7 linked regions of the Homo sapiens genome follow. The protein of the gene in region 2 purifies or fractionates together with the protein of the main gene of each other region. This does not show direct contact. Each region holds a gene or a part of one and is shown on either strand. Other genes may lie near its edges. The genes, in order: GLB1L2, PLTP, POFUT3, UGT8, GALNT7, NMD3 and ITPRIP.

Region 1 (3,500 bases), on a different chromosome or scaffold from region 2:
ACTTATTCAGTGACAGCTTGTCAAGTATCTCTAGGTCAGTGATAGCCTTATGTTTAGAGGGATACCGCATACACAGCAACAAAATCTGATCCAGGGGGATGGGACAAACTCACGGTCCATTGAGTAGAAGGTACCAGCCATACCCGGGTTAAAGCCAAAGTAGTTACAAGAATTCTTCTAGCAAGACTGGCGGCTTGGTTTTCTTTACAAGCCACCTACCTTCCAAGAAGGAGACATACCATACCACGTTTAAATCACTAAAAAGGGAGAAGCAGATTCAAAGTCCCACAAGTCAGAAATCTCCCATGCCAGAAGCAAGGTTGTTGGCTTGAGGGTACCAGAGCTGCGGAGGTGGGTGTCCACCCATGGGCCAGGCCACTGCACTGCACAACTGGCTAAGAGCTGGAGCTCTGTAGTGAGACTGTTCTGCAGTCCCCAAGCCACTACTTACAGGGTGTCTTATACACTCTATAGCTGTCTCCTTCACTGGCTCATATGACTATTGGGAGAATTAAACGGGAGAGTGCACATAACACCCTTAGCACACTGTTCCTGGCAGGTAGGAGGTGCTCAAGAAACACTTGCATAGTTCTGTCCATCACGGGTCATGGACACAGAGGACGAGTGAGGTGCTATCGGACATCGCCACATGGAGCACACCTGGAGGCCTGTGCTGTGCATTCAGAGAGCCCTTGATTTAAACAGGGAGGTGTCCAAGTCCCCTTCCTTCAGGAAAACAGACATCTCTGGACTGCGCACATAAAGCCCTTCAGCAGGGCCATTCTGTTAGCAGGACAGCTGGCCTGGGAAGGCTCGCGCGTGGCTACCCCTCTAAGGATGACCTTGAAGGCTAAACATAAGGCATTCTGCTGTATCAGCTGCTGTGCTAGGCACTTTCCAAATATTACCTCATTTAATCTTCAAACAACCCTGTGAGTTGACACCATAAGGAAATGTACTCTCATCATCCCCACTTAGAAGAAGAGAGACGCACAGAGAGGTTAAGTAACTTGCCCAAGGTCACACAGCACAGGGCAGGAGACCCTGTCATCTCAGTCACAAGTATGAGAGGCACCCCCCACTCCACTGCACACATGGGCAGGCACTCAGGAAATGCCAAGAAAGGAAGGCAGAGACCCAGCTGGATCGCGCCTGATCTGCGTCACAGGAGCCTGCCTGGGAGCGGGGCCAGCCCTCCCACCTCCTCCTGGGAGCCTCCTCGCCTACTCTGGCAGCTGAACTCCAGGAGAAGCCACATCAAACACACACACGGCCCCACACGGCTGTGGTGGCTCCACGCAGATGTGCCTGAGGACACAGCCCCTGCTCTGAAAGGCCATCAGCCGGAATGGAAAGCAGCCCAGCGTCTCCACAGCCATCCATGCCTGTCCATCCAAGCACAACTCCACTCCAGGCCCAGGACCAGTGTGACGATGCAGCGTGGGGGCAGTCTGGAGCATCCACGCCCCTCAGTGAGCCAGGGGACAGCTGGGGCCTCTCAGGTCTGCAGAGGGCTGCAGCATGGCCCTGTCCATCCACCTGCTTCGGAGGGGCACGCGAGCTCGAGAAAGAGGCCAGTCAGAACTACAGGGTGGCATAAATGCCCATCAGTCTGACAGATATTGAGGGACATCTGGAAACTCCTCCCTCTCTCCGCACCTGGAGTGGACCAGGCTTTCTGCCTTGCTGATGACAATAATCTTTCTAGGATTGCAGGGGCCTCACAGGTTAAGGTCGGATGCCTGTGTAGTATAGGACAGGGAAGTTTTTCCTTCCCCCCTCAATCCCTGGGAGCAAGTCTGGAGCTAGTTGAGGCCACAAAAGTCGAGTCCTCTAGGAGTGCACCAAAAGGGCCCCTCTCTCAGGGCAGTGGGTGATGTCCACACTGCATCAGCCTACACAGCAGCCCTCAGAGGTGTTTCTGGGCAGCGGGCCTTGCAGGCACACAGTGGCATGGGCGGGGGGCCAGAGGCCATCAGCCCTGAGTCCAGCTCCCTGCGCTGGGGAAGCTGAGCACGCTGACAGGCATTCAGAATTCCCATAGGCCGCTGAGCAGGGCGGGCCGCAGCTTCCCTGGGGCTGGACTTACCTGGACGTTGAAGAGAAAGGTGGTCAGTAGCTGCAGCTCGTGTGTTGACTGCAAGTTGATGGTGGCCAAGACTGTTAAAGGGAAGAGGAGAGAGAGAGACAAAGCACTGTCTCAAAGCCAGGGACCTTCTAGGTGACCCCAGACCCTTCTCAATCCACCAGCACAATAAAGTAAGCGGCCCTGACACCGTTTCCCACCTCCAGTTAGAAGTCAGCCACAGTCAGGCGCGGTGGCTCACACCTGTAACCCCAACACTTTGGGAGGCTAAGGCAGGTGGATCACTTGAGGCCAGGAGTTCGAGACCAGCCTGGCCAGCATGGTGAAACCCCCTCTCTACTAAAATACACAAAAAAATTAGCCAGGGTTGGTGGTGCATGCCTGTAATCCCAACTACTTGGGAGGCTGAGGTGGGAGGATCACTTGAACCCAAGAGGCAGAAGTTGCAGTGAACTGAGATTGTGCCATTGCACCCTAGCCTGGGTGACAGAGTGAGACTGTGTCTCACAAAAATAAATAAATAAATAAGTCAGCCAGGACGCCAGGAGACTTATCTTGTTGTCTTGGAGACTCCGCCACAGCAGCACAGAGCTGAGAGGCAGTCACTCGCTGTGCACCTGATCTCAATCAACTGTGACTTCTACAAGCCGAGCATGCACTCTGTTCCTTGTTCTTTTGTACGAACCAGAGCCTGATCCTTCCTTGGCACCCCAAGCATCCGGTCCAAGGTAATGATGTAAACAAAGATTCCTCTCTGATTTCTTGATAAGGGCTAATTCTGTATTCTACCCCATAACATGTTCCGTTTAAAATTTAAAATGCTATTTTCAGTGGCTTTCTATCAGTGAAACATATGCTCAAGAAAGGTGCGCTCTGTTTGGCTGACACCCGGGCATGCCCACGCCCACCCCAGTGGCACAGCCTTATCCTGGGGCCCCTCACCTGCCTGCTATCTGCCTAACAGTCAGTTCACAGGCACAGCCTAGGCACACACCAGAGAGGCTGAGCCAGCCTGGCAAGCCAGGCCACCCTGATGCTCTGCTGCAGGACGAAAGCCTCTGATTGCCAGTGAAGGAACGCAAGCGACAGCTGGGGCTCCGGGGAAGTGAAATAACTTGCCTCTAGGTCACAATAATTGGCCTCAGGTAGCGGCAGAGCGGGACTGCACACCTGGGTCTCCCTGACACCATACCATAGCTCTGCCCTGTCCCTGCCCTCCAGCAGCCCACTGGGTGGGACCCTCCACCCAGACCCCTCCCCTCAAGCCAGAAGCCCTTTGAAGACAGGAGGCCAGTCTGAAACTGAGCAGGCTGAACTCAAAGTCCGCAGGATGCACAGGGCTAAGTGAACACAAGCATCTCTGTCCTGTCCTTCCTGATACGTCTCACAAATACAAGCGGAGAGTGGACAGGTA
Region 2 (4,111 bases):
AAGCTTCAGTGACTTGGCCACGTTCACACAGCCAGGAAGTGACAGAGCTGAGCTTTGGACCCAGTTGGTCTGATTCCCAGGCCTATGCACTTTGCATTGCGCTAGGCAGATGAGCTGTGGGGCTCGAAAAGGGTGAGCTGGGGTTGGGGCTGGGGCTTACTTGAAGGTTCCCCCGAAGGCCGCGTGCATTCTGGAGACAGAGGCCTGGCAGGAGACATTGGACACTTTCATCCGTCCAGCGGGATCCCGGGAGAGCTCCAGACCAGTGCGGATGGACACACCCTCAGCTGAGGCGTTGATGTAGCCCCCATCATAGCTGCCAGGGGGGTTAATATTCACTCCAGGTAGGAGCTCAATTGAGTCTTCAGTGCCCCCATGCATCACCATACCTCTTAATAAGGTTTCACCTCTTTCCACACATCCTACCAAACCTTCCTATCAACTCGTATGAAATGCATATGCCTGTTTCTGTTACACAGATGAAGAAACGGAAACTCAGGAAGGCTAAGGGGGCTGCCCACAGCCCCACAGCACCTCCAGCCCTCCTGACCCACTCTCCACTCCCCTGAGGGTGCTGGGTCCTTACAAGAACCAGTAGAGCAGCTGTCTCCGGAAGCGCAGCCCCAAGGAGGCATTGGTGATTTGAAGCATCAGCTCCTGCTGTGGCTGGAAATCGAGCTCGGAAGATGTCAGTTGCAGCTCTGTGACCTTCACCCTACAGGAGGCCTCAGGGTCAGATCCAGGGCCAAGAAGAGGGAACTTCCCCCAACGACAGGAAATTTGTCTGCTCCCCTTTCAAGTCCAGGCCTGGGGAAGCGGGAGTGGGTGGAATGAATTCTTCCATTGTCCCTCAAGTGCCCAACTTAGACTTGGGTGGCTCAAAGTTGAACTTGGGTGGCTGAGAGAGGAGGTCTTCCTGATCCAGGTGTTAAAAATGAGCTTCACCCCATCGCTTAAAAGTCTTGTTTGTTTGTTTGCCAGGTGCGGTGGTGGCTCATGCCTGTAATCCCAGCACTTTAGGAGGCCGAGGAGGGCGGATCACTTGAGGTCAGGAGTTCGAGACCAGTCTGGCCAACATAGTGAAACCCGTCTCTACCAAAAATACAAAACTTAGCAGACCGTGGTGGCACGCGCCTGTAGTCCTAGCTACTCGGGAGGCTGAGGCAGGAAAATCGCTTGAACTCGGGATGCGGAGGTTGCAGTGAGCCAAGATCGCGCCACTGCACTCTAGCCTGGGCAACAGAACAAGACTCCCTCTCAGAAAAAAAAAAAAAAAAAGTCTTGTTTGCTTGCACCCCCTCCCCTCCCACACCCTGGGGTTGCTACACCCGGTCTTTTAATAGAGTCCGTTCACTTTGCCTCCATCACCTAAGCTCCGTCTCACATCTCAATTCCTTATTCCCCCTCCCTCATCCTAAACCATACTTAGAGCCTTCAGTTTCTCCACCCCTCCGATTAACTCCACCCCGTGCCCGAGACTCCACTCTCATCTATTGGGAAGTTCCTTGACTCCACCTTTCTGTTGTTCTTCGACCACGCCTCACATCCACTGGTCCTGCTTCCTTCTTGGCCCCCTCTACATTTTCAAGGCCACGCCCATCTGCCTGGTCCCGCCTATGATGACTGGCTTGGCCTTTATCTTTTCGGCCCCATCCGGTTTCTTAAGTCTTGCCTCATCGATTTGGCCACGCCCCATCCCACTCAGCCTCCAGTCTCCCGAGACCCTGAGATTTCTCGGGCCCCGCCTCCACCGCCGAGGCCCCGCCCCGGATCGCGAGGCCCCGCCCCCCACTTACTCAGAGATGTTGTAGTAGAAGTGGCCTTCTTTGCCCCGCAGGTCCGGAATGGTGATAGTCTCCAGCTCTTGCTCCAGAAAGCGCAGCCCCTCCTGCTTCACTGAAGCAGCAGAGAAACCCTTACTTAGCTCCCGTGCCCACTGTTGGGGCGACCCCAACCCCGTCCGCTCCCGTCCGTCCCTGTCTGCCCCTGCGCCTTACCCAGCTCCAGCGCCTTGGAGGTGACGCGGATCTTGCAGCCTGGGAACTCTGCATGTGCGCCTGCCAGCAGCGCTAGGAAGAGGGCCCCGAAGAGGGCCATGGCGAGCGGGCCTGGGGGTGGGGTGGGGTCGCAGGAGTTATCTGAGCCGCTTAAACCCATTCCTTGGACGTCCAACCATAAGTGGGAACTAGCCTGGATCGTTACCCTCCAGATAACTCTTCGGGGAACTTGGAACCAATAATCTTGCCTCCATATGGCAGATGTGGAAACTGAGGCTCAGAGAGGCGATGCGACTTGCGTTCTGGCTCCCAGAGGATTTGGGACACGGGGGAGGGGACGTTCCCAGTTCCCTCGTGCTACCGCCGCGTGATGAGTTTGGACCTCCAGGGGACCAGCCCCCACACCCCCAACAACCTCCCCTTTCCTTTAGCGGTGGGCCCATGCAGGCTTGCACGTTGCCACGGCAACGACTGCACGCGCATTCTTGGAGGGTGGCTTGCGGTCTCCTAGGCCTCGCGCCCGGGGAGGAGAGGAGGTGGCCGACCAGACCGTGGGCTCCCGGGTCTCCCGGCTCCCTCAGGTCCTAAATCTCTCCCATTAGAGATTCTGCCTGGAGCCCCCATGTTAGCGTTCTCCTTCATCGGCTCTCCTCCCCACGCCGGCTTCAGTGCACCACGCGGCTCGGCGAGGGACTGGGAACGGGATAGGGACGCGCCCCAACTCACTCAGCGGTGGAGCTGGGGGGCGGCGCGGTCACGTGGGATGGCGGGCAGCTCAGGGGATCCGGGCGACGGGGTCTGGCGGGCAGGGTTGTTCCAGCCGCCTTTATAAAGCCGGCCTCCCCGACCCCTCCTCCTCTCTGCAGCTCTCCCCTCCTCCCTTGGGGGCTGGGAGGGGACGGGGCGGGACGCTGGCAGCCGGGAGAGTGGAAAAGGCTGCACAGAGCCCCGTGACAAGCCCGGCCGCTGTCTGGACAAGTGGGAGACCCAAGCCCAGGGAGAGGGAAGGAAATGCAGGAGCCGGCCCACTCAGCCCCAACAATCCCACTTTGCTGGGACCTTGGTTCAAATTACAATTATCCATGTCTTCCTGCATGATCTTGGGCAAGTCACTTCACTTGGGTCACTGACCCTCAGTTTCTTCCTTCAGCGAAATGTGCACGATGATAGGAACTACCTCTTGGGCCTTTATTACAACCAGGTCCAGGCACAAAGTCAAGGAATATTTTTTCTTTCCCTGCCACCCACAATCATCTCGGGACCTCCTTGCCTGGCTTTGCTATGGGCCCCCCTACCTGTCTCTGTGTCACCACCTGGGGACCTTAAGGTCCCAGAGACCTTTCCCACTTGGGAAAGCAAGACTAGACAAGTGCTGTCAGCCCAGGAACATACCACACCGGCTGAAATCAGAAGGAGGTCTGCCATTTATCGTGGCTGGTGGATTGTTTTTTCTATTTTTTTTATTTTTATTTTTTGAGACGGAGTCTCGCTCTGTCCCCCAGGCTGGAGTGCAGTGGCGCGATCTCGGCTCCCTGCAAGCCCCGCCTCCCGGGTTCACGCCATTCTCCTGCCTCAGCCTCCCCAGCAGCTGGGGCTACAGGCGCACGCTGCCACGCCCGGCTAATTTTTTTTGTATTTTTAGTAGAGACGGGGTTTCACCGTGTTAGCCAGGATGGTCTCGATCTCCTGACCTTGTGATCCGCCCGCCTCGGCCTCCCAAAGTGCTGGGATTAAAGGCATGAGCCACCGCGCCCGGTCCACTGGTGGATTTTTTAATGAACCCTTGGAGCAAGGTGCTCTGAACAGCATCCCCGCCCCCACCCCCACCCCCACCTCCATCTACTGCTTACAGGGTTCCCGGACCCTAGGACAGGGCACAGAGTGGGTGCTTGCCACCTTTTTGTTGCCAAATGGACGAAAGAAAGGGGAAGCAATAATCATGTCTGCTGAGCATGTATTTAGCACCAAACACTCATCTAGGAAGGATGACTAACTCATCCTGATTTGCCTAGGACTTTCCCCATTGTGTCTTTTTTTTCTGATATAATCCACAGATTCACAAAAATAGTTCCATTTCCTTTTTTATTTAATTAATTAATTAATTTTTTTGAGAC
Region 3 (3,500 bases), on a different chromosome or scaffold from region 2:
AAGTTCTAATGTATTTCATGTTCATGCTCGGCTGCAGGATACCAGGTTTGCCAAATACCAATAAGCTGTTGAGAGTGAGGTGAGTATCAAGAATCTATAGCTAGATCGTCTCCCTCCATTGCACAAGGAAAGTACTCACTCTAGGTGAATTTCCACAAAAGGCAGTAAGTATGTGGGTCCACAGACACGGACATGGAAGATAACCAGTGTCCATAAGAAATATTTCCTTTTTTAGTATAAAAAATATAGTGGCTACCCCTAAGGGTAATTTACATCTATTCCTTGAAAGGGCTCATTATGAGTACTGCAGCAACTAATTATTATCCTGATGGATAGTCAACAGAATAGCTATTATGTTCAAATATTAAGGCAACCTAGAAAATAAACCTCAAGAAGGCTCTAGTCTGTTTCATTCTGATCATTTTTGAAATCAGTCCTTGAATACTAGGCCCCAAAACTCTTGAGATGAAAAGTTTTGATTCCTATCAACCAGCCACCTTAGTGCCTGGGCTTCTTTCTTGGATTGTTCAAAGCTGGAAATCCACATCTCTCGCAAAGAGCTCAAAGGTGGAGTCCGGAGTGGTGAGAAAGCAAACACTGTGGGCTCTGGGCAACTCAGGTGGGTATCTTCTGCCTCCCATCTTTTGGGTGGTAAGCCCTGCAGGAAGAGAAAAGAGAAATGAATTAAAAACATATGATAATGAAGCACAATTCCCTTAAAGCAACAGACTTTCCTTAAAACAACAGCTTTACTCCATGGAGCTAAAGGGGAAAGAAAGCATCTCACATATTGCCTCACTTAATTCTTATGGTAAGCATATTGAATAGGTGCTACTACCCCATTTTACAGGAGTGGAAACTAAACCACAAAAAAGTTACATAAATTGCCCCAAACAGTATATACTTAAGATCGAATATAGTTCTCTTTAGATTCTAAAGCCTTCCCCTCCCTCTGGTTATTTATCTGTTGATTTGTTTATTCCTTTTCCCCCTATTATCCCACCCCTATCCTCCTCCCCATAGGCAAATATTTTAAGATGTTTAACACAGTTCTTTGTATTTGCATGTAAGCGTATTCGAATACTCATTGCAAAATGTGTTCTCAATCTCTGGGCATTTATTTTTAATATACTTATATGTTATTGTATGTCTCATTTGTTTGCTACTTTTCACCAAGCACTGTTTTTACATCTATCTATGTTGTCACATATTACAACTAATCCCTGTTTTTAATATATTTCCACTGCACTCAACTGTCCCCAGTACTAAGATGTTTCCACCCAACAATAATGGTACCTGACATTGGCATAATACCTCCCAGCTTCAAAATGCTGCAATGAGCTTGGTCCACGCTCAGTCTTGGCTTATTTCCATGGTCTCCTAACTAACCCCTTGATTCCACTTCTGATCCTCTGCAGGCTACACTCGGCAGCCCTTCTCATTCCAAGTTCAAGTCCAAGTCCTTAAAATGGCCTACATGTTCAGGATTTGACCTTCCAATAATTTAGAAGGGAGAAAGGGAGAAAAGAAAAAGAAAAGTAAAAGAGAAAGAGGAGAGACAGAAAAACTCCAGGATAACAGAGTGAACACACATATCCAATTTCATTTCCTCCAGAAACACCATTAAAATGAGAGTAAAAGGACTGTTCTTGAAAGGCATTAACCTGTAAGAATTGGGAGAATGGAAGAGGGCAGAAGAGTAACAAAACATAGAAGAATAGGAAAATTAGCAACTTCACAGTGGGAAAACCTAGCACATACCACCTGAACCAAGCAATCAAAGTTAACATTACCAGTTATACGTTATGTTGGTATAATGCATCCCCTGATACAGGGGTCCTCAACTCCCGGGTCATGAACCAGTACTGTTCCCTGGCCTGTTAGGAACCGGGCTGCAGAGCAGGAGGTGAGCAGCATGCATGTGAGCATTGCCGTCTGAGCTCTGCCTCCTGTCAGATCATCAGCAACATTAGATTCTCCTAAGAGGGTGAACCTTATTGTGAACTGCACATGTGAGGAATCCAGCTTGCTCACTCCTTATAAACATCTAATCCCCCACCCACCTACCGGTCTGTGGAAAAATTGTCTCCCACAAAATAGGTCTCTGGTGCCAAAAAGGTTAGGAACAGCTGCCCTAATAGGATGCAATGAGAACACGTTTACCTCTGTGGTATTATTCCCCATAATCCATAACCCAAGTGTTAACATGAGAAGACATTAGACAAACCGTATGAAGGGACATTCTACAAAATACTGACCAGTACTCTTCAAAAGTTATTAAAAATAAGAAAAAGCTTGAGCAACTGTCCAGACTGGAGGAGACTAATGAAACGTGATGGTTTAATTACAGCCTGGTATCCCGAATTTGATCCTAGCGCAGACAGAGGATGTTACAGAAATATGGCCAAATATGACTAAAGAGAAATATGACTAGACTCTGCAGTTTAGCAAGCAGTAATGTGCCAATATGAATTTCTTATTGGTGACAAATGTACCACAGTTACATAAAATGATAGCATGAGGGGAAGCCAGGGAAAAGGCATACAGAACTCTGAACTATCTTTAAAATATTCTGTAAAAAAAATTAAAAGTGTTTTTAGTAAAAGACAATGGCAAAATACCTTCAAAATTCTGAGAAAAATGAATGTCCATTTTAGTGGTTTACAGTCAGCTAACCTATTGCTTAAATTTAGGGTAGAATGAAGACATTTTCTTTTTTTTCTTTTCTTTTCTTTTTTTTTTTTTGAGACAGAATCTCGCTTTGTCTCCCAGGCTGGAGTGCAGTGGCATGATCTCAGCTCACTGCAACCTGCAACCTCCACCTCCTGGGTTCCAGTGATTCTCCTGCCTCAGCCTCCCAAGTAGCTGAGATTACAGGTGCCTGCCACTATGTCCAGCTAATTTTTTTTATTTTTTTTTATTTTTAGTAGAGACGGGGTTTCACCATGTTGTCCAGGTTGGTCTTGAAATCCTGACCTCAGGTGATCCACCTGCCTCAGCCTCCCAAAGTGCTGGGAGTACAGGCACGAGCCACCGTGCTCAGCTGAAATGAAGACATTTTCACACATTCTTGCATGTACCTCTTCTCAGGAAGCGACTGGAGAGTATGATCAACCAAAACAAGAGAATAAACTAAGAAAACAGGAGACATAGCATGCAGGAAACAGATGTCAACAGAAGAGAAAAAAAGAAAAGAAAGAAAATTCCCAAAATGCTGGGGAAGTGACATCTCAGGCTGCTGCTCCACACTAAGGTAGAGGACAATGAGCACAGATAGGAGTGGGTCAGAGGCTCCGGGAGAGATCCCTTCCATAAGATCAAGAGAGCTGGATGCCTGCCATATCTCAACATCTTCAGAGGAGAGTTAAACAATCAACAAAGACTGAATGACTGACAGGTACATGGAAAAATAATCAAATAAAGATGCAATTATTACCTGGGAAAGAAACAAAAAACTGTATATGTAAGGGGGAAAATGATAGTGTACTACATGGTTTATT
Region 4 (3,500 bases), on a different chromosome or scaffold from region 2:
TTTGATTCCGTTCATATATTGGATCTCCTATCATATCAGGAAATCCTTGTAAGCCCATAATGCTTACAGAAGCAGATGACAAGCTATTAAAAACTACAATGTTGCTTAGAAAATTTTTGTATCAGTGAACTGAACAGTTAAGTCATTGATAGTTTCAACAGTGCTTGATTTACTTACTTCCTGGATAGATTTCTTTAACAAGAAATTTGGTTACTTACTATAAATTTGGTTTCTTACTACAAAATAATAAGAAAATACATGATTAACCTATAAAGCATCTGCAAAAACATTTTACATTAATGAGTTCCCTTAGAGAATTTATTTTTTCTGCCAAACTATCATTTAACAGTTCATTAAATATTAAACTTTTATTGAGTGCCAACCACTTTTCAGGCATTCAGGGTATAGAGTACCAACCTTTTGAGGTACTCACATTCTAGTTAAGAGAGCCATCCAACAAACAAACAAACAGTAGTTAAAGTACTAACATTTCTGAACTCAGAATTAGTAACTGGAATGAAATTATTAGTCTCTTCTAAACATTGTCATCCTCAATTTTCTGACCCCCACATAGCTAACAACATAGCATAGTACTACTATATAGATGAAGCTTTACATCTCCAGCTTTAAATTTCATAAGATAACAAATTGCATATGTAATTATTAATAAAAATGGCCTTAATTTTCCACATCTGCTGCAACCCTGGATCAAGTCTTTTACCCCCAAGGACCCTGGTCTCATATCCAAGCCTAGAGACTTCATTCATTAATGGTGAAACCAGCTTTCAATCACCATATGTAATAGGAAGTAATGGCTTCTATGTTAATCAGGAATACCAAGTATGGAAAGTCACTATTTTGTTTCTTCATTTCATTTTTCTTCTCATAAACTTACCTGCTCACAAGTGGCTAATCTAATAACTCTGTTGCTCAATCTCTCATTGTCCCCAAGATCATTCTCTGAGGGAGTTCCAGCAAATAACAAAATGACAAACAGTGAATATCTCCTGGTCTAGTCCCTGGTCCCATGTGCTTTCTTATCTCTGTTTATCTCTTATCTCTCCCCAAGACTATGCTTCCTTAAATAAAAATGTCTCCACAACTGGTGAACTTAAGATGCCATAAATACTCCTAATGTGGAAATATAGTATCTCTGAAGAGCACCAAATGAGTGCCATGCTGCCTCAAATCATCTTTCAAGACAGCAATAGCTGGCCTGACTTTCAGCACTGCCCCTGTTTATATGCATATTTGGAAGAGAGAAAAGACTATTTTAGTTCACAATTGGGTAATGGTATGGTTATCTTCTTTCCTCACTATCAGTAACATTAGAATAGTTATTCTAATTCATTAAAATAACTTAGTACCAGCTGGGGCAGTGGCTCATGCCTGTAATCCCAGCACTTTGAGAAGCCAAGGTGGCTGAATCACTTGAGGTCAGGAGTTTGAGACCATCCTGGCCAACATATCGAAACCCTGTCTCTACTGAAAATATAAAAATTAACTAGGCGTGGTGACATACACCTCTAATCCCAGCTACTTGGGAGGGTGAGGCAGGAGAATTGCTTGAACCCAAGAGGCAGAGGCTACAGTGAGCCAAGATCATGCCACTGCACTTCAGCCTGGGTGACAGAGTGAGACTCCATCTCAAAAAATAAAAATTAAAAAAAAAACTCAACAACTTAGCATGGATTTTTGGGTTGCTTAATGGCTAGGACAGTATACAGACACAAATTTAGAACAAACAGATGATAGTTATAATATTAACATTGTTGCACTAACTGAATCACCTATTTTTGGCAACTATTTCTATTTGATACAGTTCATTAAATATTAAAGTTTTATTGAGTACCAACCATTTTTCAGGCACTCAGGTTATAGAGTATCAACCTTTTGAGGTACTCACATTCTAGTTAAGAGAGCCATGTAAAACAAACAAACAACAACAAAAACAGTACAACAACAGCAAACAGTAGTTAAAGTGCTATTAGGTGCTATAAGAGTTCAAGGCTGTAGAAGTTGAAAAGTGGCAGAGAGCAACTGCCTGGCAGCGTAGGCCATTTCAGCCAATGGGAAATCATCTAAAAAGTATCACTTGAAACATTTATTTTTAATAACTATTAGATTCCCTAAGTAAACATGTACTATTCTTTGGTGGATTATCTGCTAATAAAATTAATAAAAATTAAAATCACTTTCCAATTAGATGTCATTATTTCATTCACATTTAATATTTAAAGGATCTATTTGGCCAGGCGCGGTGGCTCACACCTGTAATCCCAGCACTTTGGGAGGCCGAGACGGGCAGATCACAAGGTCAGGAGATCGAGACCATCCTGGCTAACACGGTGAAACTCCATCTCTACTAAAAATACGAAAAATTAGCTGGGTATGGTAGCACTAGTCTGTAGTCCCAGCTACCTGGGAGGCTGAGGCAGGAGAATCACTTGAACCTGGGAGGCAGAGGTTGTAGTGAGCTGAGATCATGCCACTGCACTCCAGCCTGGGTGACAGAGCAAGAGATTCCATCTCAAAAAAAAAAAAAAAAAAAGAATCTATTCAAATAGGGACCTGTCTACAGACCTCCTTCTTGATCAAAGCATTTTTATTTTTTAATCTTTATCCATGTTCTCTACTGGCCTGCAATGATAGAGTAGGTAAACCACTATATGAATGTGATCCAACTCAGAATTCTTCCCCTTAGTCCACATTGTTTAAAGACTCCTATTAGAGGCAGCCAGGTAGTAGATGATAAGTTGTCTTTCCAGGCACATTTCTAACATGGATTTTAAAATGATTTCTACTATCAAGGCACACAATTTCTTCACTCTACACTGACACAACATTTTGTAATCAAAAGCATTTGAACTTAGGCTGATTTAGTTTATCAAATCTCTAAAGCATAAATAAGAGTCCATATGGTTTCATTTGACTTGAGTATTAAGCCCTGACAATCTTTGAGAGACATAAAATAAATAAGATTCAAAAAACTGCTGTCTCTGCATGGTTTTATACACAATTGTAAGTAAGTAAATGACTAAAATTAGTGACAAGAGATGCAATCACCTTGAAAAAACACCTAATAAATAGCAAAACAATCCACATTACACCTGACTTTGCCACAGACTATCTGTGTGGCTTTTGATGAAGTCTTTGTATCTACTATGTGAGAAATGGATGGACTATTCCCTATCTCTATTCTACCTACTTTAAAGGAAAGAATAAATAAAAGGAATGGAGCCGAACTATATGCTCTCTACAGGATTTCTTTAGGATCAAACATTGTGAAAGCTTATTTAAAATGTCCTTTATAAATTTTCTCTGCCCTTTCATCCCAGGTTGTGAAATTCAGTCCCACTGTAAAATCATTTACAGACATCTGGAAAACCTAATCTATGCCCAGTGTAAGATACCAGGGCAATTAACAATTAAGCTGCTATATGTGAATCATGTGTTCTACGCAGCTACTTTCTGGGCCTTCCTGTGTTACTGTCACAACA
Region 5 (2,828 bases), on a different chromosome or scaffold from region 2:
AGGACCTCTGAGCGATCTAAACACTTTCCTGAAGGAATATGAGTAAATCTGTGCAGGTTCTGGAAAACACAGTAAGAAAAAAGTTTCAAATTTGGACCCTTGATATCACTGACATCAGAAATCATCACTTGACTTTCATGAGGAGACAGTTTAAGGAAATGGAAAAGCTTCTCAACCACACCTCAGACTTTGGATTTCTCTTGATTGTCAGTTTTCTGGATTTCTCTTGATTGTCAGTTTTCTAAGTCCTAAGATCTTTCATTGTTAAGTCACAATATACTGCTGGTATCTCACACTCAATGTATACAAACCTAAATTCATTATCTGCCCCTCCAAATCTATGTCTCTTGTTCCTATCCTGGCTAATGACATTCCCAGCTCTCTAGTCCTTAGGAAATACTGCACTTTTCCTCATTCACTCACATACCAGTCACTAAGGATGGATATGTGCAATGTCTCTGGTTTATATTCCTTCCCATCGCCACTGCAGATGCCCTGGTTTGGCCCTCACCATATGCTGTAGGTTTCTTCAATATAGCTCAGAGCTTCTCAAAGTCTGGTCCTCAGACTATCCAGGATTGGGTCTGTAAGGCCGAAACTATTTTCATCATAATACGAAGACACCATTGCCTTTTCACTTTAGCAACATTTATACCGATAGTGCAAAAGCAATGGTGAGTAAAACTGATGGTGCCTTAGCATGAATCAAACTATGCTAGTACCTATAGTTGTATTGCTCATGGCCACACACAGTTGAAAAGTAAATGCCGGTTTCACTTAAGGATGTCACTGATGAAGGAGCAAAACATTCGTTTTATTCAGTCTTGACCCCTCAGTATACTTAAAAAAAATTCTATGAGATGAAGTGGGAAGTACGTATCAAGTACTTCCATATAATGAGGTACAATGCTCAAGGATATCAGTCTACACTGGAAATAACTTTTAAGAAACTACCACTTAATTATTAAGTTGTGGTGTACAATAAAAAAACAGCCACAATTATATGAACGGCTATTAAAGTACTCGCTCCCTTTACAAACTGTATGCTTGTGTGGGGCTGGGTTTCCCTCATATACTTGAACGAAAACAACATTTCAGATCAGACCAAATGAAGCAGGAGTATGAGAATCCAGCTGTCTTCTTCTATTAAACCAGACATTAAAGAGATTTGCAAAAATACAGAATTCCATTCTTCTCACTATTTTTTGTGGGTAAACATAGTTATTTTTCATTAAAAATGTCATTTACATTAATGTTTAATAAGTATATTATTATTACTTTTAGATGAATTAATATATAAAAACTTTACAAATTTCTCAGACACTTTCCAGTTCTGGAAATATTGCTAGTGATAACCTATATAAACAAAAGCAATTTGGGGGTGGGGGAGCTCAAAAATTTTTAAGAGTGTAAAGGGAATCCAGAGGACAGAAAGTTTGAGAACTGCTGCTCAAGCTGATCTCGTTGCTTCATCAGTCCATACCTCACGTTTCCAGAATTATTTTCCTAAAAGTAGCCATTGTTTTCCATCACTACCTTCCTCAAATAAGGTCTATCCCTCTCCAAAACTTAAAAAATGAAGTTCGGTGCTCTTTCCTCCAAAGCACAATTGAGGGATACCAAATGAAATACAATTCTTTGAATTTTCTACATGTTTTCATGCCACATCTTTGCTCATCCAGGCTTTCTTATTTACTTTCCATGGAAAGCCTTTTTACACTTCAGGACTTGTGCAATGACACTTCCTCTATGAAACTCCTCAGCAGTAATTCCTCCCATGAATCACTCTTTTCTGTCCTATGGCATTTTGCTTATCTCTATTTTTGCATTTCTTTCTTCTCTGCCATTATATAATAGCGTGCTTTAGCTATATTTTTGAACTCCCCTACAGTCTAACATATTATTGGTCCCCAAGTGAATGTTCAGTAATATCTAACACACAAATGTATATTCAGTGCTGCGTCTTTAAAATACCTAAAACATGTTATGTGTCATTTTTTGTTCAATTACTTCTTGATGTAGTTTCTGGTGTGTTAGCCCTCTTTTACTATTTTGCTAATATTGTTCTCACTGACCCCTACTATTTATTGCTATTATATATCCTTTTTTTTTGTGAAAATAAATGCTCCACTCTTTAAGGTTTATGCTATTCTTCTCCTTCCTAACTTGTTATAAGAAACAAAATCATCAATTGATACGTGCTTATCACTTCCTGGAAATTATCTGTAAATGACAGTAACAGGGAATGTTAAGCTAGGTCATATCATTATTACATAGCAAACAAGTCCTTGCTTGCATGACAGATGGGATATGATAACAAATACTGGGTGAGTAAATAAAATGGAGGGTTGACAGATTTTTTTAGTGTGAGGCAGCTTTCCCCACTTTTTGTTTAATAATAAATTGATTTATGTTAGCCAAATCTAGAATTTGAAAACTATACATAAATCTATTAATATGTTGTAATCCTCAACTTGCCACAGAGCTTTAAATACTCACAGCTGAAACACAAAGCTACCCCAGCAGTGTCACGTGAATAACTAAATTTGACCATTAAAGTAAGCAACTAGCTACATTTATCCCACTGTATTTAGCACACAACAATGATAAAGACGTTATGAAAGCCTAGATTTCAAGTTTTATTTGTTTGTCTCTATCTCCACCTGCTGGACAATATCAAATATTAACCAAATTTTTAATAGTATAAATATATTTAAATATATTTTACTTTAATGAATGATTCATTTACATTTCAAAAATCAGATTTTGATGAGAGCAATGGTGATGACTGCCTCACAGAACACTGACTTTCTTGTATTACTAAAATT
Region 6 (3,500 bases), on a different chromosome or scaffold from region 2:
ACTCCCTGACTACCACCTCCCATCTTTCCAGCTTATTTCCTCTAGTTCCTGGGCACCAAATATCTTTCAAGCTAATATAATGGACAATCCATTCATCCTACCAACTTTATTCCTCATTCCTCCTCACTAGCTTCAAAATCAATAATCAAAATTATTCTCATGTACACACTCAATTTCCTTGTTCCCTCTCTTATTTCACCTTAGCCACTAGGCTAAATTATAAATTTGGTTAAATCCAGTGCTCTGCCTGCTCTATGCCTTGACTATGTGGCTGACAGAACTACAGAAATAGATGCACACCACAGTGACTAGTCTAAACTTGTAACAGTAACCCTCAGCACTGCCCAGCACCCATCCAACACTGTCCTGGTGCATTTCCTCTAGTTCTAGAGGACTATTTCATATCTTCCGCTCTCTCCTCAAACATCTATCTAACAGCTCTTCCCACATAGCTACTGCCCACGCTTCTGTTTTCTCCAGTACAAAAGAAGGAACCAGAGGAGAATTCCCAGAAGCTCCCACTCAACACCTTCCCTGCTGTTACCACAGATGAATTATCCATACTCCCATCAAGATCAACCTCCAGAATGCCCCTCTAGAGAGCAGAGATCTTTACTTTGTTCCATGAAATATTACAGCCTCCCAAAATGGTGCTTGGTGAAGAGTAAGTGCTGAATACTTGTTGAATGAAGGAGTGAATTAACAAATAAATGTATTCTTTCACTATGTACTATATCTCTTTTCCACTTATTGAGGCCACCCCCCAGCCAATTATTCTTCTCCCTGCAATTTCACAAAAATTTCCCTCCGTACTCTAACACTCCCAGAGAGCTTACAAATACAGTTATATATACCATCTTAAGAAATGTATCCTGGCCAAGCACAGTGGCTCATGCTTGTAATCCCAACACTTTGGGAAGCTGAGGCAGGAGGATCGCTTGAGCTCAGGAGTTCAACACCAGTCTGGGTATATTGTGAGATCTCTGCTCTACAGGGCCAAAAAGAGAGAGAAAGAGAGAGATCTCACCTCTAGTAAAAATAAAAATCAGCCAGGTGTGGTGGTGCATGTTTGTAGTACCAACTACTTAGGAGGCTGAGGCAGAAGGATCACCTGAGCCCAGGAGTTTGAGGCTGCAGTGAGACATGACAGCGCCACTGCACTCTAGCCTGAGCAATAAAGCAAGACCTTATCTCCAAAAAATAAAATAACATAAAAAGACAAGTGTCCCTTCCCCAACTTCCCCTTCAACCACTGCCCCATTTCTTTGTTTTCGTTTACAGCAAATCTCAAAAGAACTGTCTATCTTCCTTCTCCCATTTTAATTTCTATTTAAATGACATCTTTACCACCACCACTAAACAGAAATTGCCCATGTTATTAAGGTCGTCCACATTACTAAATCTACAGAACTCATTACTTGACTCATCAGCTGCAAATCACATAGCTACTCACTCCTTTCTTCTTAAAACACTTCCCTTTCCTCCCAGGACATCACACTCACCCTGTTTTCCTCCTACCTCCTAGCAGCTCCTTTCAGTCTCCTTTGCTGATTCCTCCTCATTACCCAATTATTTCTTCATCATTACCCATTAAAGGAATGATTCCAGGATTCAGTCCTCCAGTTTCTTTCCTTCTCTATGTAAACTCCTGAAATAATCTAATCCAATTCATGACCTTAAATACTATCTATATCCTAAATTCATTATCTCTAGACTGGACCACTCATTGGCTTATTTATCAACCTGCCTACTCAGTATTTCTACTTAAGTGTCTAGTAGACATCTAAATACCAGTTACAGATGAACTCTCATGCCCCCTACCCAGTGACTTGGCTGCTCAGGTCACGAACAGTGGAAGGCATCCTTAACTCTTCTGTCTCTTACAAAAACACATCCAGCTACATCAGTAAATGTTACTACCTTAAAAATAGATCCAAAATCTGTCCACTTCTTACCACCTCCATTGCTGATCCAAAACCATTTCTCATGATTATTACAAAAACTTAAACACCTTTACCTCCCTTACAACCATTCTAAAAACAGCAGCCAGAGGAATACTAATAAGTCATGTCATCTCACTACTCTGCCCTTCACCCTCTATACTCCTTACACTCAGAGTAAGAAACAGCCCCTATAAGGGCCTACAAGGCCAGACACACTGTGGCCTTCCATGACTTTTCTGGACTCTATCCCCAACTACTTTTCCCCTCACCACTCCGTTCTATTCACACAAGTATGCTCTTGCTTTTGGTCTCTACATTTGTTTTCTTTACCCCTAATGCTCTTCCTCCACATTTCTGCACAGCTTCCTCCCTTACTGTAATCTTTAGTGTTTACTCAAATGTCACCCTATCAGTGAGCCCTCCCCTAAACACCCTTACTTTAAATTTCAACTCTTCCATGCACAGTTCTTATCCTCTTCCTAGCTCCTTTCTCCACAGAATATACCTTTTAATATACCATGTAATATATCCACCTATTTTGATCGCTGCATACTAACATGCTGCTCCACACTGGCATGTTAGTGTGCAATTAGAATACACGCTTTCTAAGACAGGGATTGCCTTATTCACTGCCATATCCCCAACACCAAAAGCAGTTTGGCACAGAGTTGGTACTTAATAAACATCTGATGAATTAATTAATGAACTGTTAAGACTCACTAGACATTTGACAAAAACCCCAAGTATAAAAGCAAAAAACCAAGACACACAAAAAACTGACTTCATAAAAAAACAGAGACAAATGAGGGAACAGAAAGAAACAAAAAAAGTCCTATTATCAAAATCTTCAGAAAAACTTAAAAAAAATGCATCAAGAACATGAAAGACTCTGGAACTTAAAAACATTACTACTGGAAAAAAACAATTCATTAGAAAGATTAGAAGATAAAGTAAAAATCACCAAGAACAGAGGGGAGCGAAAAAAACCAAAAAGGTTTTTTAAAATATGAAGGGAAAAAGACAAAGTTTTATGCCAGAAGCGCCAAAAAGTGACCATCAGAAATTTGTGGGGTTGGCTGGGACCTAGTAGGAAAATAAAGGCAGAAATTTCAAAGAACTATTACATGAAATTTTATTAGAGCTTAAAGGAGAATCAGAAAAGTCTTCAATCTGAAAGAGTCAATTTCAATTAAAAACATGGTAGAAGTGAGTCATAAAGCTTAAAATAAAGAAAACTCATAGTGTCAATCACTTTCAATTTTATATCAGGAAATAAACTGTACTTTAAACAAACTATTTTTTTTAATACATTTATGCACTGACTTTCAGTGACAGGCACAAATATTTTATTTCCAGATCAATAATGACAATAAAAAGAAACCAAATAACATAGCCCTAATATTATAATCCCAATTATGTTTAGTGATGGTTTTACATAAAAATTTCCGTTAAAAAATTATACATGAGATTCTCGATAAATAACAAAGGAAAAAAATTAAATTCTGTCTTTTTAAAGCAAAAAGATATTTTTACTTTTCATAAAAAGAATATATATAA
Region 7 (4,122 bases), on a different chromosome or scaffold from region 2:
ATGGGTATTTCCTCCTTTGACAGAGAAAGAAAAAGGCAACTGTTCTTCCCCCTTTCCCACGAGGGTTCCCAATTAAACTAGCTTTTTAAGCTTAAGTTGCTTCTTGGTCTATGAATGCCCAGTGATTAAGACTCACCTTCCAGGCTCTGGAACACTTAACATCCCTGTGCCTCAGTTTCCTCATCTGTAAAATGGAGTTAACAATACCTAACTCATACGGCTACTGTGAGGATTAAATGAGTTAATACAGGCTAAGTACTTTTGGGGAAAAAAAAAAAAAGCCTGGCGAATGTTAAGCCCTCAATAGTGGTTGTTTATCAGGGCTGCTGTGTGAATGGTGGACCAGGCAGTGTACTGCTTAAGGCACCTGGCTGAGGGGTGAGGATAAATCCAGCTCACATGCCACTTATCCAGCTATATGGCTTGGCTATGTCCACTCAAGTAAGGCCAGTATTTCTAAGAGGCATCAAGCCCCATCCTCTTGCCAAGACAGAGCACCTTATTCTAATTCATGCGAAGGACTGAATAGGCTAGCAGCAGCCCTGGAGGTTATCATGAACAGTTCTCAGCATCCTCCTGGCTCTGTACCCCTCCCCAGCAAGACTGGATGAGAGAAGGGTCCAGGATGGCCTGGTGTCATCCATAATAAAGTCCTGCTTCTCAGCTCCCAGAACACTTGGAGCACCCACCCCTTCCAAGCAGATTCTCCATTAAAGCCCCACAGGCTGCCGTGCCACCTCAACCCTACTGGGGCAGACTCTCAACTCGAAACATGGAACCTGAGTCTTGGACTCTGAAAGCACCTTCTCCTGCCCAGTTATTTTTTTTTGGGGGGGGGGGGGCAGCGGGGCATTGGGGGGTAGGTTAAAGACAGGGTCTGAACTCTGTCACCCGGATGGAGTGCAGTGGCACGATCCTAGCTCCAACCAAGTGATCCCAACCAAGTGATCCCAGCTCTAAGCCTGGAACTCCTGGGTTCAAGCAATCCTCCCACCTCAGCCTCCCAAAGCTCTGGGAAGACAGGCAGCCACCCAGCCCAGACTCTTTCCTAACTGTTGATGGCTACCTGTCTCTGCTGATAGCTGTGAAAGGAAAATACAACCTTAGGACCCCAAGCTCAGGATGCCAAAGGGAAAAGTTAAGCTTGGGAACTCAGTCATGCAAAAAACAAAACCGAAAACAAAACTGCATTCCTTTTGTTGCCAAACAGATAGCTATAATTTCACATGCTTACTTTATCTTACGTAAAATGTAGATTTACTGAGCATGAGAAGAATGCACCCAGGGAGAGCAGAGAGTCAGTATAACTACTTCATGGTTACCCACAAGTGGAGAAAATCCGAAGGCAGAATGGCCCAGAGCAGCCGCAACATACAGGGAATTAGCAAACAATGAAAGCCACTTAGGCACGAGGGCTGGAGGGAGGACTCAAAAACACAGCCTATTCTGTTTTCGTAAGGAGGAAAGACAGTAATCCACTTTTCTGATACTCTATTTTCAGGGCTCACCTGGGCCTAAAACTGCACCAACCACAGATGAACTTTAGCTGGCAGTCAGATAGACTCGGTTTGTAAAAGGCAAGAGCACTGGGTCATATCCAAAAAAAGAACAAGAAAATAGACCGCGACCCCGATTTAGATCCAAAAGACCAGAGTCCAGATTGCGACCAATATCTGGTACTCTACTGTTTGTGAAATGAGACCAGTATCTGGTACTCTACTAGTTGTGAAAGGGTGCTTTTCTCATACCAGCAGAGGGGCAAAAGGCAAAATGAGGCCCCTGCCTGGTTCCGTAAAATATTTTACCTTCCTGGTCGGTGGCTTTTTTTTTCTTTTTCTTTTTCTTTTTTTAAGAGAAAGCGTTTTGGATGGGGAGTCCCGCCCCGGGAGTCTTCACCAGGCGGCCAGAATGGCAAAGTCACAGGGATGGGGTTGAGGGTGGGGTTAGGGGTGAAGGGGCAGAGAGTTATTTGCAGCCCAAGAGCAAGTCTGCACAGCGTGAGGTCTGGCCCACTAATAGTCCCGAAAGAGGAAGCGGCGGGGATTTTATCCGGCCTGAAGCAGCCCCATAACTTCACTACCATGAACCGAGAAAAAAAAACTTCACGCCTATTCCTCCCTTACAGGAAGGGAGGGAAGGGGAAGGGGAAAAGGGGGCAGCAAATGAGCAGGGCGAACCGGCTTTTCTTTCTTCGGTAGCGCTCTGCTCAGATGTGAGAAGTAACGGGTCACCTGGCCACTAGGAACAAAAATGTGGTCCCGCTCTGGGCTCCGAGGCTGCGCGCGCCTCGAGGAGGAGCTGCCCGCAGCCCTGGCTGGAGCGAGCGCCCGGGACGCATCCCCCGACGCGGCGGGAACAGGATGCGGGACCGCGAGGAGACAATACGCCCGCCTGGGCACGCGCGCTTTAAGGGAAGGGGGTCTCCAAAGTCAGCCCCCACCCGGGAGGAGCAGGCGCCCGCGCTCCCCACACCCTCCTGCGCCCCCTCTGTCGGCAGCCATCTCCGACACAGCTCCTCCGAGCTCGCGCTCTCCATCGCGCCCTTCTTCCTTCAGCACACTAGGCTGCCCTGGGACTTACGATTGGCTTGGGTCCCCGGTCCCGGTCCCCGCCGCGGGAGGACGGCTCCAGCACAGGCTTTGCGCGCAGGTCGAGGGCCGAGGCGCCGCTGCTTGCAGGCGGCTGCGGTGGAGCTTGCGGCCCGGCACTTAGAGGGGCGCGGGCGGCGATGCCCCCGCTGGCTCCCACCTTCTGGCCTGCAGCGGCCGGCTCTACTGAACTTCAGAGTTACTCATTTCCTGGATGTCACAAAAACTTTTTCCTCCTTATAAGAACAAAACACCCGCCTCTACCCGCGGCCCCGGAAGCTCCTTAAGGAGGACCGTGTGGGTTTCGGTGGTTGGGCCCAGGATCCGCCGGGAAGACCTTCCCAGTGAGCCCCCAGAAACTTCCCCGGCACGGCAGAACTGGAGAGTGACTGGGAGAGACGGAATCAGGCCAGTGGAGTAAACTGGAGCGAGTGGACAGGGGCGCGGGGAGGACGCCCTTAAAAGTCGTCCTAAGCCGCGGAGCGGAAGGGGTTAAGTCCTTACCAGTCGGGGAGAGTTTTCTGCGGCGCGTTTTACAAGTGGCGGAATTCCTGGGGCCACCTATTTAGTCTCTTGGAGGAAAATATAACTCTAGACAAAACGCCAGCCTTTTTCTCTTTTGCAGCTTGAAAGGATTAAAATAGCTTACTACCGTTTTTTTTTTTTTTTGAGAAGGAGTTTCGCTCTTGTTGCCCAGGCTGGAGTGCAATGGTGGCGCTATCTCGGCTCACCGCAACCTCCGCCTCCCGGGTTCGAGCGATTCTCCTGCCTCAGCCTCCCGAGTAGCTGGGATTACAGGCATGTGCCACCACGCCCGGCTAATTTTGTATTTTTAGTAGAGAAGGTGTTTCTCCATGTTGGTCAGGCTGGTCTCGAACTCCCTTCTCGGCCTTCCGAAGCGCCTGGGATTACAGGCGTGAGCCACCGCGCCCGACTTTTATGATAATCAAATGCATGGTTGCTTTTCTCCGGGATTAACCGGGCACAAAGGAGAACAGTGACCGGATACTGTACGGGACAGGCGCGGTAGTTTCTGGTTACTGTTGTGACGGTAGATCAAGTGTTACTACCCCTATGTTAGAAACGAGAGAACTGAGGCCTGGAGGAGCAGCAGCAGCGTTCTGGTCGAGCTTAATAGTTTATGAAATCCATAACTTCTATTGTCTTCCCTTTGACCTGCCCAAATCCTACCATCAGTACAAAAGGCAGAGCAGGGTTTGAATGAATTCTCCATTAAGCGGCTTTGGGGGCACCAAATGCCAGTGAAGGCACATTGGGGAAATTGGAACACAGTGTCCAAAATGATCACCATTGCTACTGCTATTTGGTCTTAGATCACCTTTTTTTCGTCTTTTCCTTTAACACTCGCCTGGAAGACTTTTTGGCTGAGTCTGAAAGATAAACAGGCAATGAGAAAATGTTCTAAAAATAGACTCCCTGGCCCTTGGCCCAGGGTACTTTTGTTTTCAAGTTTCTACTGCTGCTCAAATTCTTTCCTTACGTAAGAGGTTATGGCAGAATTTTGGGGGCCAGT

Evidence for each region.
Region 1: the proteins of PLTP (region 2) and GLB1L2 purify together in Homo sapiens (affinity purification with mass spectrometry; 3 studies listed by BioGRID and IntAct, with this or other methods). This does not show direct contact.
Region 3: the proteins of PLTP (region 2) and POFUT3 purify together in Homo sapiens (affinity purification with mass spectrometry; 2 studies listed by BioGRID and IntAct, with this or other methods). This does not show direct contact.
Region 4: the proteins of PLTP (region 2) and UGT8 purify together in Homo sapiens (affinity purification with mass spectrometry; 3 studies listed by BioGRID and IntAct, with this or other methods). This does not show direct contact.
Region 5: the proteins of PLTP (region 2) and GALNT7 purify together in Homo sapiens (affinity purification with mass spectrometry; 2 studies listed by BioGRID and IntAct, with this or other methods). This does not show direct contact.
Region 6: the proteins of PLTP (region 2) and NMD3 purify together in Homo sapiens (affinity purification with mass spectrometry; 2 studies listed by BioGRID and IntAct, with this or other methods). This does not show direct contact.
Region 7: the proteins of PLTP (region 2) and ITPRIP purify together in Homo sapiens (affinity purification with mass spectrometry; 2 studies listed by BioGRID and IntAct, with this or other methods). This does not show direct contact.

Annotation. Positions count from the first base shown.
Region 1 is NC_000011.10:134,362,988-134,366,487, reverse strand, and holds part of GLB1L2 (beta-galactosidase-1-like protein 2 isoform b precursor), read right to left. Parts: intron 2,161-3,500; coding exon 2,090-2,160; intron 1-2,089.
Region 2 is NC_000020.11:45,909,356-45,913,466, forward strand, and holds the start of PLTP (phospholipid transfer protein isoform a precursor), read right to left. Parts: upstream 2,801-4,111; 5' UTR 2,724-2,800; intron 2,109-2,723; 5' UTR 2,098-2,108; coding exon 1,998-2,097; intron 1,897-1,997; coding exon 1,797-1,896; intron 1,640-1,796; exon of another isoform or gene 1,516-1,639; intron 716-1,515; coding exon 587-715; intron 317-586; coding exon 161-316; intron 1-160. UniProt on the Homo sapiens protein: Mediates the transfer of phospholipids and free cholesterol from triglyceride-rich lipoproteins (low density lipoproteins or LDL and very low density lipoproteins or VLDL) into high-density lipoproteins (HDL) as well as the exchange of phospholipids between triglyceride-rich lipoproteins themselves.
Region 3 is NC_000008.11:33,372,147-33,375,646, forward strand, and holds part of POFUT3 (GDP-fucose protein O-fucosyltransferase 3), read right to left. Parts: intron 659-3,500; coding exon 431-658; 3' UTR 66-430; coding exon of another isoform or gene 1-65. UniProt on the Homo sapiens protein: Protein O-fucosyltransferase that specifically catalyzes O-fucosylation of serine or threonine residues in EMI domains of target proteins, such as MMRN1, MMRN2 and EMID1. Attaches fucose through an O-glycosidic linkage.
Region 4 is NC_000004.12:114,626,307-114,629,806, reverse strand, and holds part of UGT8 (2-hydroxyacylsphingosine 1-beta-galactosyltransferase precursor), read right to left. Parts: intron 1-3,500. UniProt on the Homo sapiens protein: Catalyzes the transfer of galactose to ceramide, a key enzymatic step in the biosynthesis of galactocerebrosides, which are abundant sphingolipids of the myelin membrane of the central nervous system and peripheral nervous system.
Region 5 is NC_000004.12:173,318,811-173,321,638, reverse strand, and holds part of GALNT7 (N-acetylgalactosaminyltransferase 7), read right to left. Parts: intron 60-2,828; coding exon 1-59. UniProt on the Homo sapiens protein: Glycopeptide transferase involved in O-linked oligosaccharide biosynthesis, which catalyzes the transfer of an N-acetyl-D-galactosamine residue to an already glycosylated peptide.
Region 6 is NC_000003.12:161,227,811-161,231,310, reverse strand, and holds part of NMD3 (60S ribosomal export protein NMD3), read right to left. Parts: intron 1-3,500. UniProt on the Homo sapiens protein: Acts as an adapter for the XPO1/CRM1-mediated export of the 60S ribosomal subunit.
Region 7 is NC_000010.11:104,335,666-104,339,787, forward strand, and holds the start of ITPRIP (inositol 1,4,5-trisphosphate receptor-interacting protein precursor), read right to left. Parts: upstream 2,801-4,122; 5' UTR 2,581-2,800; intron 1-2,580. UniProt on the Homo sapiens protein: Enhances Ca(2+)-mediated inhibition of inositol 1,4,5-triphosphate receptor (ITPR) Ca(2+) release.